2 separate regions of the Homo sapiens genome follow, and region 1 is linked to region 2. A link means that fine-mapping ties the variant in region 2 to the expression of a gene that starts in the linked region. Tissue or cell type: whole blood. Region 2 holds a variant in brackets; the other region holds the start of a gene. All regions are shown on one strand. Distances are between the middles of the regions.

Region 1 (8,000 bases), 28 kb before region 2:
TCTTATATCATTTTTTTCATTTTTAAAATTTATTTTTGGCTGGGCACGGTGGATTATGCTTGTAATCCCAGCACTTTGGGAGGCCGAGGCAGGCGGATCACGAGGTCAGAAGTTCGAGACCAGCCTAACAAACATGGTGAAACCCCATCTCTACTAAAAATAGAAAAAACTAGCCAGGCGTGGTGGCGCACGCCTGTAATCCCAGCAACTCGGGAGGCTGAGGCAGGAGAATCGCTTGAACCCGGGAGGCGGAGGTTGCAGTGAGCCGAGATTGCACCATTGCACTCCAGCCTGGGTGACAGAGCGAGACGCCGTCTCAAAAAAAATAAATAATAAATAAATAAAAATAAAATTTATTTTTATTTATTTTTTGAGATAGGGTCTCACTCTGTTCCCAGGCTGGAGTGCAGTGTCATGATCATAGCTCACTGCAGCCTCGATCTCCCAGGCTCAAGTGATCCTTCTGCCTCAGCCTCTCAGTAGTTGGGACTACAGGCGTGCACCACCATGCCCAGCTAATTTTTTTATTTTTTATTTTTTTTTGAGACAGAGTCTCGCACTGTCACCCAGGCTGGAATGCAGTGGCGTGATCTCGGCTTACTGCAACCTCCGACTTCCAGGTTCAAGCAATTCTCCTGCCTCAGCCTCCCAAGTAGCTGGGATCACAGGCACCTGCCACCACGCGCAGCTAATTTTTTGTATTTTTAGTAGCGACGGAGTTTCACCACGTTGGCCAGGCTGGTCTTGAATTCCTGACCTCGTGATTCGTCCGCTTTGGCCTCCCAAAGTGCTGGGATTACAGGCGTAAGCCACTGCCCTTGGCCAATTTTTTGATTTTTAGTAGAGAAGGGATCTCATTATGTTGCCCAGGCTGGACTCAAACTCCTGAGCTCAAGTGATCCTCCCACCTCGGCCTCTCAAAGTGTTGGGATAACAGGTGTGAGCCACTGCGCCTGGCCAAGTGTGTTTCAAGTGAGGCACAATGGCAGTAAGCTTGACTAGAAGCATCAATAGGTATGAGATCTGGTGATTAAAACTTAGTTTCGGAGCATAAACCAGGAAAGTTTTACTTAGGTTGTTGACTTCCGGTAGTGGGAGGCATATATTTTTAACAATAATTCCTCCTTCCCTCCAAGAAGAGAAAAACACCGTCTCTCTTGAATTCTGTTTCTTCTCATCTGCATTTTCACCCACCCTAGACAATGCCATCCCCATCAAATCCTGGTTCAGTGACCCCAGCGACACAGCCCTTCTCAACCTGCTCCCAATGCTGGATGCCCTCAGGTAAGGGAAGTGGGCTCTGGACACTTGGATATCTCAAGAAAGGAGGAGGTGGGGGATCCTCAGAGGGAATAAAAAAGGTTTGTCCTGTTTTAACTCTGTTCCCTTAAGAATTTAACATTTGGACCCAGGTCGTCTTACTTCAAAGCTCATCACTTTAGCTAGTAGGCTGTGGGCAAATTGAACCTATCTAATCATGAATATGGTGATAATTTAGGTCCCACATCTCCAGTGATGCTGCCTTACAAGAGTGTTGTGAGGGTATGAACTATAAGGTACTCTACCAATGCAAGTTATTGTCACCCCAGGTTCACCGCTGATGTTCGTTCCGTGCTGAGCCGAAACCTTCACCAACATCGGCTCTGGTGACAGCTGCTCCCCCTCCACCTGAGTTGGGGTGGGGGGGAAAGGGAGGGCGAGCCCTTGGGATGCCGTCTGATGCCCTGTCCAATGTGAGGACTGCCTGGGCAGGGTCTGCCCCTCCCACCCCTCTCTGCCCTGGGAGCCCTACACTCCACTTGGAGTCTGGATGGACACATGGGCCAGGGGCTCTGAAGCAGCCTCACTCTTAACTTCGTGTTCACACTCCATGGAAACCCCAGACTGGGACACAGGCGGAAGCCTAGGAGAGCCGAATCAGTGTTTGTGAAGAGGCAGGACTGGCCAGAGTGACAGACATACGGTGATCCAGGAGGCTCAAAGAGAAGCCAAGTCAGCTTTGTTGTGATTTGATTTTTTTTAAAAAACTCTTGTACAAAACTGATCTAATTCTTCACTCCTGCTCCAAGGGCTGGGCTGTGGGTGGGATACTGGGATTTTGGGCCACTGGATTTTCCCTAAATTTGTCCCCCCTTTACTCTCCCTCTATTTTTCTCTCCTTAGACTCCCTCAGACCTGTAACCAGCTTTGTGTCTTTTTTCCTTTTCTCTCTTTTAAACCATGCATTATAACTTTGAAACCAAAGCGGCCTTAGGTCCTTCTCTGGGGTTTTGGGAAGTGAAGAGAGGGGACTTTGTTCACATGCACCCTGTCCCACAGGCAGAGGGGGAAGAGACTGCTGTTGGACTCAAGGGGCAGGGGGAAAGGTGGCGTTGAGTATAGGGATAGAATAATGCGGACACCAGATGCCTGGGATACAATAATGCTGACACCAGATGCTTTGGCGGGAAGGGCCGAGTGACAGGATGGGCGCGCTGGTGGGGAGTGGAAGGACACCTTCGGAGAAGCAGGCTATGGAAGCACGAAAGGAGAAACCGGCTATGGAAGCACGAAAGGAGAAACCTGGACGGCCAAAGGGCGTAGAGCTGGAGAAACCGGGCTTCGTCCGGGGCACTGACGTGGACAGGTTAAGCGGGCGCTGCCCCCAGGTGGCTGGCGCCCCGACCTCCGCTGTCCGGGAAGGCGTCGGTCCCCCTCCCAGCTGTCGCCCAGCCGGCCCCGCCTCCCCGGCGCCCTCCCAAGCCGGCCCTACTTCGCGCACCCGCCACGTGACGCTCCGCCCTCTTTGAGATCACATGATTTAACTCAAGTCCCGCAGTGTTCCTCCGCGCTGGCGTAGTCCCTACCTTTCCAACCTCCTCTCCAGTCCCTATTGGTCTACTCATTTTGGCACTTAAGCGTTCTGTAGATCTCTCCAAACATCTGTTTTCTTTTTGACTTCTTATTTCTGGAGATCATCTCCGCCACTTGGGTACTACTTTGTTTTGGTGTCAACGGCCGCCTTCAGCGTAGCAACACGGTTCGTGAATAGCTAACCTTGTAATTGTCCCTGCTGTTCCTCTACGTTGTTAACGAAAGGAACTTGGAGAACCAAGTCTCGTATGATGATTACCATCTTTTACTCCTCTTCAGCCCCAGCTTCCTTGAGGGGACGGTTGGGGAATAGGTTTAGAGTAATTTTCGATGAGCAAAAGCCAACCGTCTTTGCTACGTCGCCTGCGTAGCCCACAAATTGATTCCAAAGCGATTACGCTAATGGCGTGAGGGGGCCGGTCAGTTGGTGGTGCTACGCTAGCAGCGTTAGCGCCGCTGAGGTAGTGGCGTATCTTAGCGGGGGGGGCAGTCCCCGATAGTCGGGGGCGGGGTTGGTGAATAGGGAAGTGGCGCAAATTCGTGGATCGCTCCGCTGAATCCGCCCGCGCGTCGCCGCCGTCGTCGCCGCCCCCCGTCCCGGCCCCCCTGGGTTCCCTCAGCCCAGCCCTGTCCAGCCCGGTTCCCGGGAGGATGAAGTTCGTGTACAAAGAAGAGCATCCGTTCGAGAAGCGCCGCTCTGAGGGCGAGAAGATCCGAAAGAAATACCCGGACCGGGTGCCGGTGAGGACAGTAGCCAGGGCCGAGGGCGCGGGACGCTTACGCTGACGCCACAGCCTGGCCTTGGATCGGGACAGGCAGCGCAGGGATCAGGCTGCTGGCTGTGGTGGGGTTGGCAGCGAGCCTGAAACTGCTGTCCTTGGGACCCAGGATGAAAGGAGTGGGGTAGTGGTGGATGTGGGGTTGAGAGGGATGTGGACAGGAGAGAGAAACCTTAGCATTTGAGGCCTTAGAGAGTTTGACAGCCTGAGCTTCAAATGGTCATCCCCCCAGCTAGCTAAGGTTGCGAGATTGAATCACTAGTCGACCCAAACAAGTCACCTCCGTCTGATTAAGATAGTTGTTTATGGTGACGCCCTATTGGGGGATGGATCCTGGATATTTAAATGAGCTCCAGTCAGTGAGGTCAGGATCTCTGGGACTCAGTGCTGCACCGCGTGTACAAAGACAAAGAGATGAATCTGGGGTAGATTTAGGTGCTAGGAATATTGTTTCTTGAGTTCTTGACAGGTGCAGCTTCGGGGCTGCATTCCTTCTGTCTCCTAATTTTCATCTCTTTATCAGGTGATAGTAGAAAAGGCTCCCAAAGCTCGGATAGGAGACCTGGACAAAAAGAAATACCTGGTGCCTTCTGATCTCACAGGTGGGAACCTGATCCAAGACTCAGGCTTGCTTCCTGTGGGTGGGAGTGCAGTCTCTGCGGGAGGAGGCTCCACCTAGCAGCTGTTCTTTTGAGGGCATTTTTGACCTCTGTGACTTTCTTGCATCTTGTATCTTTTGCAGTTGGTCAGTTCTACTTCTTGATCCGGAAGCGAATTCATCTCCGAGCTGAGGATGCCTTGTTTTTCTTTGTCAACAATGTCATTCCACCCACCAGTGCCACAATGGGTCAGCTGTACCAGGTATGGTGACTGGGAAGTGGTGGAGGCTTTGGAGAGGAATCTTGGAAGAGCGTGAGGGGAAGAAAGTGTTGTTACATCAGTAGTTTTGGACTAGCTTCCTGGCTTGCCTTAAAGTTTCATAATAGCCGTGGGTTGGGGGTTTGGACAGAACAGTAGGAGTAGAGAGAAGGAAAGAGAACAGTGAGCTAGAGAAACTATCTGTTCGGGACTCTTCCCAGTCCCCCTCCCCATTCCAAAGCAGCAGAAAACAGTTTGAGGCCTTTTTGCCCAGGACTGCAGAGATTATACTGCTCGTGTGGTAGGCCTTGGAGTCAGTGAAGGAGTCAGGCAATGGTTTGTGGTTCTAGAAGAACGTGTCTGGGTCGTGGTTGGTTTAAGTTACTGGAGCCCAGTTGCTGAACAGTTTTCTGCTTTCATCCCAGGAACACCATGAAGAAGACTTCTTTCTCTACATTGCCTACAGTGACGAAAGTGTCTACGGTCTGTGAAGCTGCTGCCCCTGAGCTGGAGGGGGGTCTCATTCTACAAAGAGAGAGGTGGCCCCCCTTTCTTGACCTCCTCCTCCTTCAAGCTCAAACACCACCTCCCTTATTCAGGACCGGCACTTCTTAATGTTTGTGGCTTTCTCTCCAGCCTCTCTTAGGAGGGGTAATGGTGGAGTTGGCATCTTGTAACTCTCCTTTCTCCTTTCTTCCCCTTTCTCTGCCCGCCTTTCCCATCCTGCTGTAGACTTCTTGATTGTCAGTCTGTGTCACATCCAGTGATTGTTTTGGTTTCTGTTCCCTTTCTGACTGCCCAAGGGGCTCAGAACCCCAGCAATCCCTTCCTTTCACTACCTTCTTTTTTGGGGGTAGTTGGAAGGGACTGAAATTGTGGGGGGAAGGTAGGAGGCACATCAATAAAGAGGAAACCACCAAGCTGAACTGAATTTTGCCTTGTGTTGCTCCCCTCGTCCCGCTGATTTTAAGTCTTTCCAAGGTGTCAGTGGGTTTCAGTGGTGGGGAAAGAAGAGTACTGGGTACAAGCTGGAGGGATAGAAGTATATTTTGGTTTATTCTGTTCATGTTGGGCTTTTCCCTGTCTGCAAAAAGAGGGTGCTTTTGTTGTGATGGAATGGAATACTGAGGATTATTTCTTGAAACTTTAGTTTTATAACACGCATGTGAAACTAAATGTTAAAAATGCTCATGTAAAAAAAAATTTTTTTTTACTGTGGGTTCCTGTGGAGAAAGTTCCGAAGTACCTGCTTTAGGTGAACATCCACATTTGCTAGAACATTCTAACTAAGATATTTTCATGTGTGCAAGCTAGTAAAACGGCTGTTCTCAGTTGCATGTCACTTGGCTAGACTTTTGCCGGTGTGTGGGATCCGGCAGAGTGGAATCAGGGAGGGAGAAGACTGGGAGCGGGAGCCATTATCGCCAGGAATACTTCAACTCCCAGCAATCATTTCTCCGGCAGGCCGGAAGTGGGGCGGTCCTCCTGGGGAGAAAGAAGCTGCAGAACGAGGCAGTATGGTGGCCGAGAGTTCTAATCCCTTCTTCCTCTTCTTTCTTGGTCCCGCCCAGCCTACATCTCCCAGGGGCCTGCGCGCGCACTTCCGCTCTCCCCTCCGGCTCCTGGTCTCCCCGCCGCTCCCCGGGGGAGGGGAGCGGCTTGGTGCGCCTGCGCCAGCCTGTGGCTTTCTGGGAATCAAAGTTCCGGAGGTTCATGCGGTCCCTTTTCCGCTGTTCCCGGACGGACTACAAAACCCTTGGTGCACTGCGCCTCGGCGCCGGCGGGGGGAGGAGGGAGAGAAGAGGAGGGAGGGAGGAGAGAGGAGGTGGAGGAGGAGGAGGAGGGAGCAGGCGGCCGGCGGCGCGGGGGGAGGGGGCCCGGTCCGGGAGTGCGGGAGGCAGTGGTAGAGGGAGGTGGCGGCAGCGGCTAGCGGACTCGAGTCTCAACCGGGCTGAGGCGGACACTTCTGTGGAGCGAAGCAGTGGGAGCATCGAGCACTAGAGGCGGCACCGGGATCCCCGGCTCCGGGGAGGGGGGCGCCGGACCGGGAGGAGGGGAGGGGGCGATGCTGGAAGCCATGGCGGAGCCCAGTCCCGAAGGTGAGCTCTCGACCGGTGCAGAGCGCTGAGCCGGCGGGGGGCGGGCGAGGAATCAATTGGCAAACTTGGAGGTCGAGCCCCGGAGCCCAGCGGGGGAGTTCGGGGAGGGGGTCGGGAGGCTGGCCCTGGAGGTGGGAGAGCGACGAGTTGAGAGACCTTGGAGAAAGAGGAGTGGGAAACTGGGCTGGGGTAGTTGGAGATCAGACGGTGTGGGGGTGCGGGGGATAGGAGCTTGAAACCCGGAGCCTCGGGGGTTAGGGCCCGAAAGGGCCACCGGCAGATTGGGGCCCTGGAACTGGAAGGTTAGGGGAATCCAGTGGCCGGAGAGTTGCTCAGGAGGGAGGACGTAGAAGAGGCTGAGTGAGGGGCCCGGTAGTTCGCCGAGGTGGGGTAGTTTGTGGCGGTGGTACCGGAGCTCCGAGTAGTTGCCGCCGGAGAATGCCCGGTGATTGTCGGAGAGGTGGGCAGGTAGTTGTGGGGAGAAGAGGGGGTCTGGGTATTGTCTACGGCAGACGGACCTGTACCGGGGGGTAGTTGTGGAGAGAGCGAGCCAGGAAGCGAGGCGAGCTGGGTAGTTGTAGGGGGTGGTGGGGCGGGGTGGGGGGGGTTAAGACCGGCGACTTGTCGGGCGGGGGGGTAGGGTTGGTCCGCGAGGGTTAAGAGCCTGGGAGTTGCTGAGGGTGAGGGGGGCATCGGCGGCAGCAGCGGTGGCTGCTGTGGAGAGAGAGAGAGAGTGGCTGGTTGGGGGGAAGGGGCCAGAGTTGAGGGGTCCATAGCCTAGTAACTGGGTGGTGAGTACGGGGGCGGAGGGGGGGGCGGCGGCCGGAGAGGGCTAGGAACAGGGCCGGGGGGCCCGGTGGGGAGCCCGAAAAGCTGGAGACGGGGAGGGGCCAAAGCCCCGGATGGGGGCGGAGGGACGGCGAAATTGTGGGGAGCGCGGTATGGGCGGGGGGGGGGGGGCAGGTGGGGGCCGCGTCCGGGTTAGAGCTCCCGGGTCTGTCCCGGCCGTGAAGTAGCGTTGGATGCGTGTGCCTGTGTGTGTCTGGGGTGGGGGTGAGGGGCGCGCCGGGCCGCGTGCTCGAGTAGAAGGGGCCGGAGGGCGGGGAGCGGTTCGGCGTGGTCATCCTGGACCCTGGGGGCTGGCGGGCGGCGTGTGCGGTCTCGGAGGGCCCGAGGCGGTGGAGCGCGGCCGGGTAGGAACTCGGGGCTCCGGGCGCGTGTGAAGGACGGGGGCGGCTGGCGGCGGCCCGGACGCGGCCCCGGGAGCGGTACGGTGGGGTGGGGCGCTGAGGGATCCGAGTAGACTGGAGTCGAGAGAGACCGTGAGTTGGGGGGGCGGGGCGCCGGGCCTCCGGTTGGGGGAAGGGGAGCGCTATAGCGAGGCCTCAGAGGGCGCCGCGCCCAGGCTCCG
Region 2 (8,000 bases):
CGTCTTTGCTGTCATCGCTGGTGGCTGGCCAGGTCTCCATGTTTGCCTCAGGGGCCTCTGTGCTTCTGCTTCTATCTCCTTTCCCATTATCCGGGTTCCTGCCAGCACAGAAGGAGTTAACTCTGCCAAGGCACCCCCCCCATTCTGGCTCCTAGCTCCCTCCCTCCCTCCCCCTGCTTCCTCTCTCCTCCTCTCTCCCCTTCCCTCTTCGGCTCCACGGCTCCCTCGGCCGCTGCCGTTTCCAACCCCCCCACCCCACTCCCCCGCCACGGCCCCTAGCCCCTGGCCGTTTGGCAAGACCCCCCCCTACCCCGGGGCTCCCCGAAATCCAGTTCCCCTCCCCCACCCCAGCTCATGCCCCAGCCCCCGAACTCCGGGGCTGCCAGCCCCCGGTGCCCCCGCCCCTCCTGAGAATCGGGGTGTGCTCCCCAAGCCCCCTCCCCTCCACTGGGGAGCCCCTTTTAGGGCCCCCTTCCCCTCCCTCCCACGCTCCCCTCCCCTTCCCTTCTCCAACCCCCTCCTTCCCCTCTCACCCCTCCCCCCATCCTGGCCCCCCCTGCAAAAGTGGGGTGCGGAGGGGGGAGGGGTGAGAACCCACGGAGGGGAGGAACGAAACTCCGATGAAGTCAGAGCCCCTTACCCGCCGCCGCGGCCAGGCCCCCCAACATGGACTGTCTCTGTATAGTGACAACCAAGGTAAGCATGATGGGGGGGCTATAAACTGGGGGGAGGGTATGAGTTTGTGGGGAGGGGTTAGTAGGCCTTATCTGGGACTGGCGCCCCTGGAGTGGCAGCATCAGAAGTAAGATGTATTTGGGGGTCTTAATTTAGTTTTGGGGTTCACATCTGAGAAAATGCAGGATTTGGCCACAGGTGCCCCCTGGAGTGATCCCTTTGTACCTGTAGGGATATGGAAAATTTAGGATATTCCATGGTTCGGGGGGCCTGGCGGGTTTGGGGGTTCATCAGCGCTGTTTGAGGGAGACTTATTTAAGGAGAAGCCTGGCTCATAAGGGAGTCCTGCTGGTGTATGTGGGAAGGTGGGCTATGTTGGGGGGTTCCTCTTTCCTCCCCAGGGAAAAGCTGGCTTCCAAGGGCCTTGTCCAGTTTTGGGGGGCTCCTGGCATGGGGTAAAGGTTATTGGTTGTGAGTGCCTGACTGATCTGGGGGTGTCAGCTGGCAGGGAAGGGGTGGGCCTTCAGACTCTAGAACAAGCATCTCGTGGTGGCTGCATTTAGGGATGCTCTCTCAATTTGAGGGAACTGTTAATTTAGGGTTCAGTCATATAGAATGGAGGTAGTTGGAAGTTGTCAGAGGGCTGGGGCCCTGGCATGGGATCACCTGAGGGAATGGACCAGGTGAGGCAAGGATTTGGGGGTACTCCCATAGGAGGCAGAAGATTGCAGCAGCCGAGCTTGCCAGCCCCTGAGGAGGAGGATGAGAGGCTTAGGGAGAGAGGGGATTTGAGGAGGGGGACCGGGTGGGTGGTGCACAATTTGGGGGTGGCCCAAAGGCAGGTGCCCAATATCCCCATCTCCTCCCACACTGTATCTAGCCCTGATCAAGAGAGAGGGAGAAGAGCAGATGTGGGGACTGTTCCAGATACCCCTGACGCTTGGGATCAAGGTGGGGGAGGACACCTGGATTTAAGGGTCCCTGAGGGCTTATGACCGAAGTTACTGAGGTTACTGGGGTGAAAAGGTGTAGGAGGAGGGCAGGGCTGGCAGCGATGGGGATCTGTGCAAGAGTGTCCCTCTGGTTGGAGCCTGGCAAAGGCAGGAGATCTCGGATGGAGCACAGGCGAGCTCCTGGTGGGATGCAGATACCTAGGCTCTCCTTGGAGACTCTGGGACTGGAGAGCTGGATGCCTGGTGTGTGGAGGGAGGCTTGGGCGGGTGGCAGGCAGCTGGGGGCTGGGGGGTGGGACAGGAAGTGGGGGCCGGGGGAGGCGGGGTCCGGGTGAGTCACAGGCTGGGGAGGGGGTTATATTTAGTGGGAACTGCAGCTTTTCATGGGAGGGAGCTGAGGACACACATGTTCCCTGCCACAAACTCACACATGTGTGTACACATGCATTGTGCACGTGTGAGGATGGTTGGAAGAGATTGGGGGCTGAGGACCTTTAGATCTGGAGCCCCCACCCTCTCTCCACCAGGGCGACTTTCTTGTCCTTCATTCTGTGGGTTTCGGGCTTTCTCCCAGGCTGCCTCTTCCCCACATCCCCTGTAGTTTCGGTGGATTTTTATGCCTCAGTTTCTCTGGCCTGGTTTCCTCTGCTCCCGCTGTCTCCTGCCCTTAGGCCTGTCACTTGGCCTTAGGCTCCATGGCTGTGGTCCCCTGCATTCCAGGTGTAAATAGAAAGCCCGCTGGAATGTGTGGGCTCTGCTTCCAACACGTGAACACACAAATGGGAGCGAGGGTGAGGGGCTTGCCAGCAGGCAGCTATTCTGGGTGGGTGGGTGGCCTTATTCATTACCCACTCCAGACTCCTACTTCTTCCATGGAGCCCAGGGTTGAGCATCCCTGAAGGAAGGAGGCTTACAGAGCAGATCATGCATTTGGGGTTTACAGAGGCGTGGAGACCCAGGCTTGCCACATTCCTTGGCTGGAAAACTTGTCAGCCTCGGTATGGTGGGGACTCCAACTCCCATAAGGCCCCGAGGCACCAGATCCCTCAATGTTAGAGGGTTGCTGCCCATGGCGCTGTTGGGAGTTGTGGTTCATCTCTATCCAGGGCAGCCAGCGGAGGGTAGCCCAAGAGGAGCCTGCAGGGGGCACATGGCTCCTGCTTCCCCAAATGCTGGATGGGGTAGGGAGTGCTCAGGCTTTGCGGTCGTTGAGCTCCCCAGCTCTGCCTGAGTCTTCCATCTTTCATTGCCTATATTTAGACTCCTGCCGCAGTAATTTAAGGAACATTTATTGAAAGCCTACTGCGTGCTAGGCCCTGTGTTGTGTGCAAACTCCACTCTACAGCGATCACTTTGTCTTTCTTGGTGCCTTTATCTCTGCCAGAATCTCTCGTCTCTGAGCATCTCTTTCTCCCACTCCGCCCCCGTCCCTCCCCCTTTCCCCGCGCTGCTGCCGCCGTTGCCATGGTAACCGGCGACGACTGAAGCTGCGTGGCGGACTGGAGGGCCGGGCGAGGGTGGCGGAAGGCGGAGCAGAACAAGTGGGGGTGGGGATACAGTGGGGGAAAGACTGAGGCTATTTGCCAGAGCCCCAGGAGCGAAGCGGTTAAACCCTCCGGGTGGTCCTTATTGGGCAAAGCCGAGATGCCGGGGGCGGGGCAGTGTGGCCGACGGCCTCATTCATTGGCCGTCAGGGGCGTGGCGGAGGGACAGTGTGGGCGAGGCAGGGGGAGCGAACGGGCGGGAAGTGGACGGAGGCGTGGCCTCCCGGGCAGGTGGGTGGGGTCTGGCTTACTCTATCGAGGGAGGCAGCAACCTTCGGAAAGGGGAGGAACCTTGGGGCTGGGTTACCTGACCGAAATGAGGGCGGGGCTGACCTGGGATGGGCGTGGCGTGGCCCCCCGTGCGTAAAGGAGACAGGGTTTGAGGAGCTATTGTCCAAGTAACTTCAGGGCGCGGGGGTCTTTGGAAAGGAGAATCCGGGGGTTGGGAAGTCTGACGTCTCAATTTTCCTAAGATGGAGGTCTGTTCAGATTTCATCAGAGCACCCCTCCTACCTCAGCTCTGTGTTCCCAGGAGACGGTTGCTAGGCGACGGCAAAGTCCTTGATTGCTGCGTTGCCAGGCAACAGAGAAACGGAAAATGGAGGGAAAAGGGAAATGGGGGATGGGGAAGGGTCTTTATGGGCCATGGCGCCCACTGGTGGATAAGCAGGGCCTGCAGGTTTTCTATTCTAGAAGGAAATTTGAGTCCAGCCCCTTCCGCACTGACTCCTTGGATCCTCTGGTGATCCAAGCCTTCCTACCAGATATGAAACTAGGACATTGGGGGTCATCTTGGGGGCGCATGTAACAGATGCCGATCAACGGGGTCAATCTCGCTTGGGTGAGATTCTAGGGAAGTCGTCATTTCTACCATGTATGGGCATTTTATAGAAGTCAGCCGATTTGAGGAGACCCCTCACTGGGTTTTAAGAGCTGGAAGGGTGGGCGTTCAATGGGAGAATATTTGGAAGAGAGGCTTTCAGGTTAAGTTGTTTGGGAGAAAATGGAAATCTCTGAAGAGACCTGAAGGAGGCGGTTGGGAGTGTTCTGGACGATTTGTGGGTCATTGCAGATTGCCGGCCGTATCTTTGGTGTGTATTTTTTGAGGCCTGAGTGTGGAGAAGATATATTTGGGAGCAATCTTCCGACAAAGTTGGAATTCAGAATCGTGGAGGGGATGTTCTGGGCAGACAGAAAAGGGTGTAATCTATGAACCTCAGGGGTAAAGAAAAGGAGAGGAGGTGCCGGGTGCGGTGGCTCACACCTGTAATCCCAGCACTTTGGGAGCCCGAGGCGCGCGGATCATGTGAGGTCACGAGTTCGAGACCAGCCTGGCCAACATGGCGATACCCCGTCTCTACTAAAAATACAAAAAAATTAGCCGGGCGTAGTGGCGGGCGCCTGTAATGCCAGATATCCGGGAGGTTGAGGTAGGAGAATCACTCGAACCCGGGAGCCGGATGTTGCAGTAAGCCGAGATCGCGCCATTGCACTCCAGCATGAGCAACAGAGCGAGAATCTGTCTCAAAAAAAAAAAAAAAAAAAAGAAAGAAAGAAAGAAAAGAAAAGGAAAAGGAAAATACTTTTAATTAATTAATTATTAATTTTTGAGACCGAGTCTCACTCTGTCGCCTAGGCTAGAGTGCAGTGGCACGATCTCGGCTCACTGCAATCTCTGCTGCCCAGATTCAAGC[C/G]ATCCTCCTGCCTCAGCCTCCCTAGTAGCTAGGATTACAGGCGCCTGCCACCGCGCCCGGCTAATTTTTGTAGTTTTAGTAGAGATGGGGTTTCACCATCTTGGCCAGGCTGGTCTGGAACGCCTGACCTCATGATCCAACCGCCTCGGCCTCCCAAAGTGCTGGGATTACAGGTGTGAGCCACCGTGCCAGGCCAAAATTTTTTTTTTTAGAGATGGGATCTCACTATGTTGCCCAAGCTGGTGTTGGGCACCTGGCCTCCAGCGATCTTCCCGTCTACATTTCTTTTTATAAGAGTTTTGGAAAAAATTGACGAGATTGCTATTTAATTTGGAGGGTCTGCTTTAAAGTAGATTAAATATTTCCTGAAATTGGGTTCTGGTGTGGATTTGGAGACTGGCATATTAGGAAGTCATGAGTATCTTATTAGATTCGGGGGTTTGGACAGGGGATCCCCAACAAATTAGAGGACTTGTTATTTGGATGTTTATATTAGAGCAAGAGTAATATTTGCACTAATTGCAACATCCCTGTTAGTGGATTGGGAGATAGATGTGATATAGAAAGGGATGATTTAGCATATATTAATTTGGGGGGCCAACAAGGCTCTGTGGTTCCTTAAACTCTTGAAGAAACATGGGCTGCCTATCAGGTGGGGCTGGACTGCAGGGGAGAACTATGCTGGTTAGAGTAGGAGATGCCTTGGAATCTGAGGAGATGCTATCCACAGCACCAATCTTGCGGGGGTTTGGTGGGAGAGGCAGTGTAGATCCCTTGGGGGTTCTTGTGAGAGAAGTGCTGTTTGTTTCCCTGGACTCTGGGAGGCCAGTAGTGACGAGATGTCCAGTGAGGTTTTGGAATGGTTTGGGGTCTCGCGATGTTGGGGTTGGGGGATTAGATGGGATGGAATAAGGGGTCCCTGAGAACTAGAGAGATAAACTGGTAAATTTAAGTCTGTCTTTAATTGTAGAGGGGTCGGAATAGAAGTATACTGTGGAAAGTGAAGTTCACAGAGAAACAGCGTGAACCAGGGAAGTTGGTGGCTAAGAGGGTCTCCCCTCACCCCTCTCTCCCAACGTGACGCTCTTCCTTACTGCGCAGGCGCCGTCACCCCCCCCCCCCCCCCGCCGCAGCCTCCAGTTGCCGCGGCCGCCGCAGCCCCCGCCCCTCTGCCCCTCCCCCTCCCCCAACCCCCGGGACCCTTGATATCCCACCTACCCCCTTCCCTCAGTCCCCCTCCCCTTCTCCATGTCGGCTCGGAACAGATTCGCCTCCATGTGTCTCTGCGTGGTACGTGCCGCGGTATGGGCTCCGGCCCGCTCCCCCTTCCCGGACCCCCGCAAATATCAGGGTGCAAGCTTCAAGCGCTGTCGCTCTTCCTTCTGCTTGGTGCGGGGTCTCTGGGTTGCAACTTCTCGTGGACAGGCGCCGTGGGTCGCCCCTCTTATCATTCACTTTGACTCACACCCCTATGTTTTGGGGGTGCAAGCCTCAGTTCCAGGTCATTCTGTGCAACTGGGGCTCTGGTGAGGAGGGGGCCAAAGGGGAAGGAACAACAGCGACTCCGTCCGTGTCCCCCATTCCCCAGGCCTTTTACTTGTTTTAAGCCCTAATATATTGGGGGTGCAGATATGTCCCAGTAGCATCTGAGTTGTCTGGGTTAGGGCCCTGAGTCCCAGTAGGATAAAGGATGGGGGGGGTCCTCCTTTCCCGTCCTGCTTTAGTTGCCCTGTAATCCAAGACTGAGAGGTGCTGATCCCCCACCGCCCCAGCCCCCCAGTCTGCAGTTTCAGAATTACTCTCCCCCGCCCCCACCCCCACCCCTCCCGACGTTTCTCCCCGCCCCCCTACATGTACGTCGAAAATTTCCAGAGACTGAACCTAGTCCCTAACCTCTTCCAGCCACATTCTGGAAACCCTGGCACCCATTTCTTGTTCCCCATTTTCTCCATGTTGCCTCCCAATCCTGAGGAGCCTTTTCTTCAGTGCCAGACACCACCCTCCCTCCATGGGGGTGGGGCAGGGAGAGGTATTGGGGGCTCGCTGAGATAAAAGTTTACCTTCATTTCCTCCCTAGAATAAATGATGAAATGGCCCTCCTCATGTTTCCATTTTCTTTGGGTGCACGCTGACATTTCCTCCTCAGATTCAGGAATTTTCTCTCTGAGGTGGAGTGAAGATGGAGAGGCACTGGACTCAAACCCTCCCCCAGACTCCAAAACTTGGAGCTTTGGTCCTAATTTACCTTGCAGGGAATTGGAGGCCTTGTGAAGGAAGAGTGGATAGCGGAGAGCGGCTTCCACCCCTTCCCCCAGGTCTCAATTCTGGGGCTTGCCCCTCAGCTTGTGCACTGCCCAGGTAGAAGACCACCTTCTCAGGATGTGGAATGAACAGTCTCTGTTGGTTCATAGAACTCCTTTATTCAAGACAGCTCAGCCTTGGAGGAGGGCTATTTTGTGTGTTCTCCTATTTTCCTTCTCTACTTTTTGTGCCCATCGGATTGAAATCTGGAGTTCAGGATTCTCTCCAAGTCTGTGGCCCAGAGAATAGACTCAATCTTGCTGAGCCCGTTTTCCTTCTTTAAGACTCTTTAAATGTATCAGGGTGCTTCTTGATTTGAGTTGTCTCTGTGTTCTGGGTTTGAGAGTTTTCGTGCTGACAGGACCACTTCCCTTCTCCCATTCTCTTACTGTACCCTTACTCTACAGCCAAAGTTGTGTTATATTCTCAGCCTTGATTCATCATCTTTAACATTTTCAGAATCCTACTCAAGGATTGGCCATTGACCTTGATAAGCTTCCTCCCATTTGATCTCGCAGCTGCTGCCCTCTAAGTATTAGGGCACTCTCAGCCTCTCAGAAACTTTTGGGAGGGAAATTCTGCTCGCCCTCTCTCTTTTTTGTTTTGGAGATGGAGTCTCACTCTGTCGCCAGGCTAGAGTGCAGTGGCATGATCTCGGCTCACTGCAACCTCCGCTTCCCAGGTTCAAGCAATTCTCCTGCCTCAGCCTCCCATGTAGCTAGGATTACAGCCATGTGCCACCACGCCCAGCTAATTTTTGTATTTTTAGTAGAGATGGGATTTCACCATGTTGGCCAGGCTGGTCTCTGACCTCAGGTGATGTACCCACCTCG

The links. PIP is the estimated chance that this variant, and not a neighbour inherited with it, causes the effect.
Region 1: GABARAP starts here. The variant in region 2 is fine-mapped to the expression of GABARAP in whole blood (TOPMed, PIP 0.96).

What each region holds. Positions count from the first base shown.
Region 1 is chr17:7,237,835-7,245,834 of GRCh38, reverse strand. It overlaps GABARAP (GABA type A receptor-associated protein), which reads left to right and starts at 3,386. Exons shown (of 4, transcript NM_007278.2): 1 at 3,386-3,594; 2 at 4,156-4,234; 3 at 4,375-4,493; 4 at 4,916-5,827. The coding sequence starts at 3,505. The coding sequence ends at 4,981. It overlaps PHF23 (PHD finger protein 23), which reads left to right and starts at 6,378. Exons shown (of 5, transcript NM_024297.3): 1 at 6,378-6,589. The coding sequence starts at 6,556. It overlaps CTDNEP1 (CTD nuclear envelope phosphatase 1), which reads left to right. Exons shown (of 8, transcript NM_001143775.2): 7 at 1,200-1,284; 8 at 1,590-2,244. The coding sequence ends at 1,650. RefSeq lists silencers at 2,624-2,733, 3,324-3,513, 6,111-6,250, 6,301-6,480, 7,631-8,000 and enhancers at 3,126-3,677, 3,678-4,229, 5,911-6,000, 6,128-6,777.
Region 2 is chr17:7,209,814-7,217,813 of GRCh38, reverse strand. DLG4 (discs large MAGUK scaffold protein 4) reads left to right here and starts at 187. Exons shown (of 20, transcript NM_001321075.3): 1 at 187-696. The coding sequence starts at 667. It also overlaps a transcript of ACADVL not described here. RefSeq lists enhancers at 1,857-2,835, 3,210-3,504, 5,756-6,270, 6,271-6,785 and a silencer at 3,223-3,462. The variant C/G (reference allele first, on the strand shown) is at 4,867.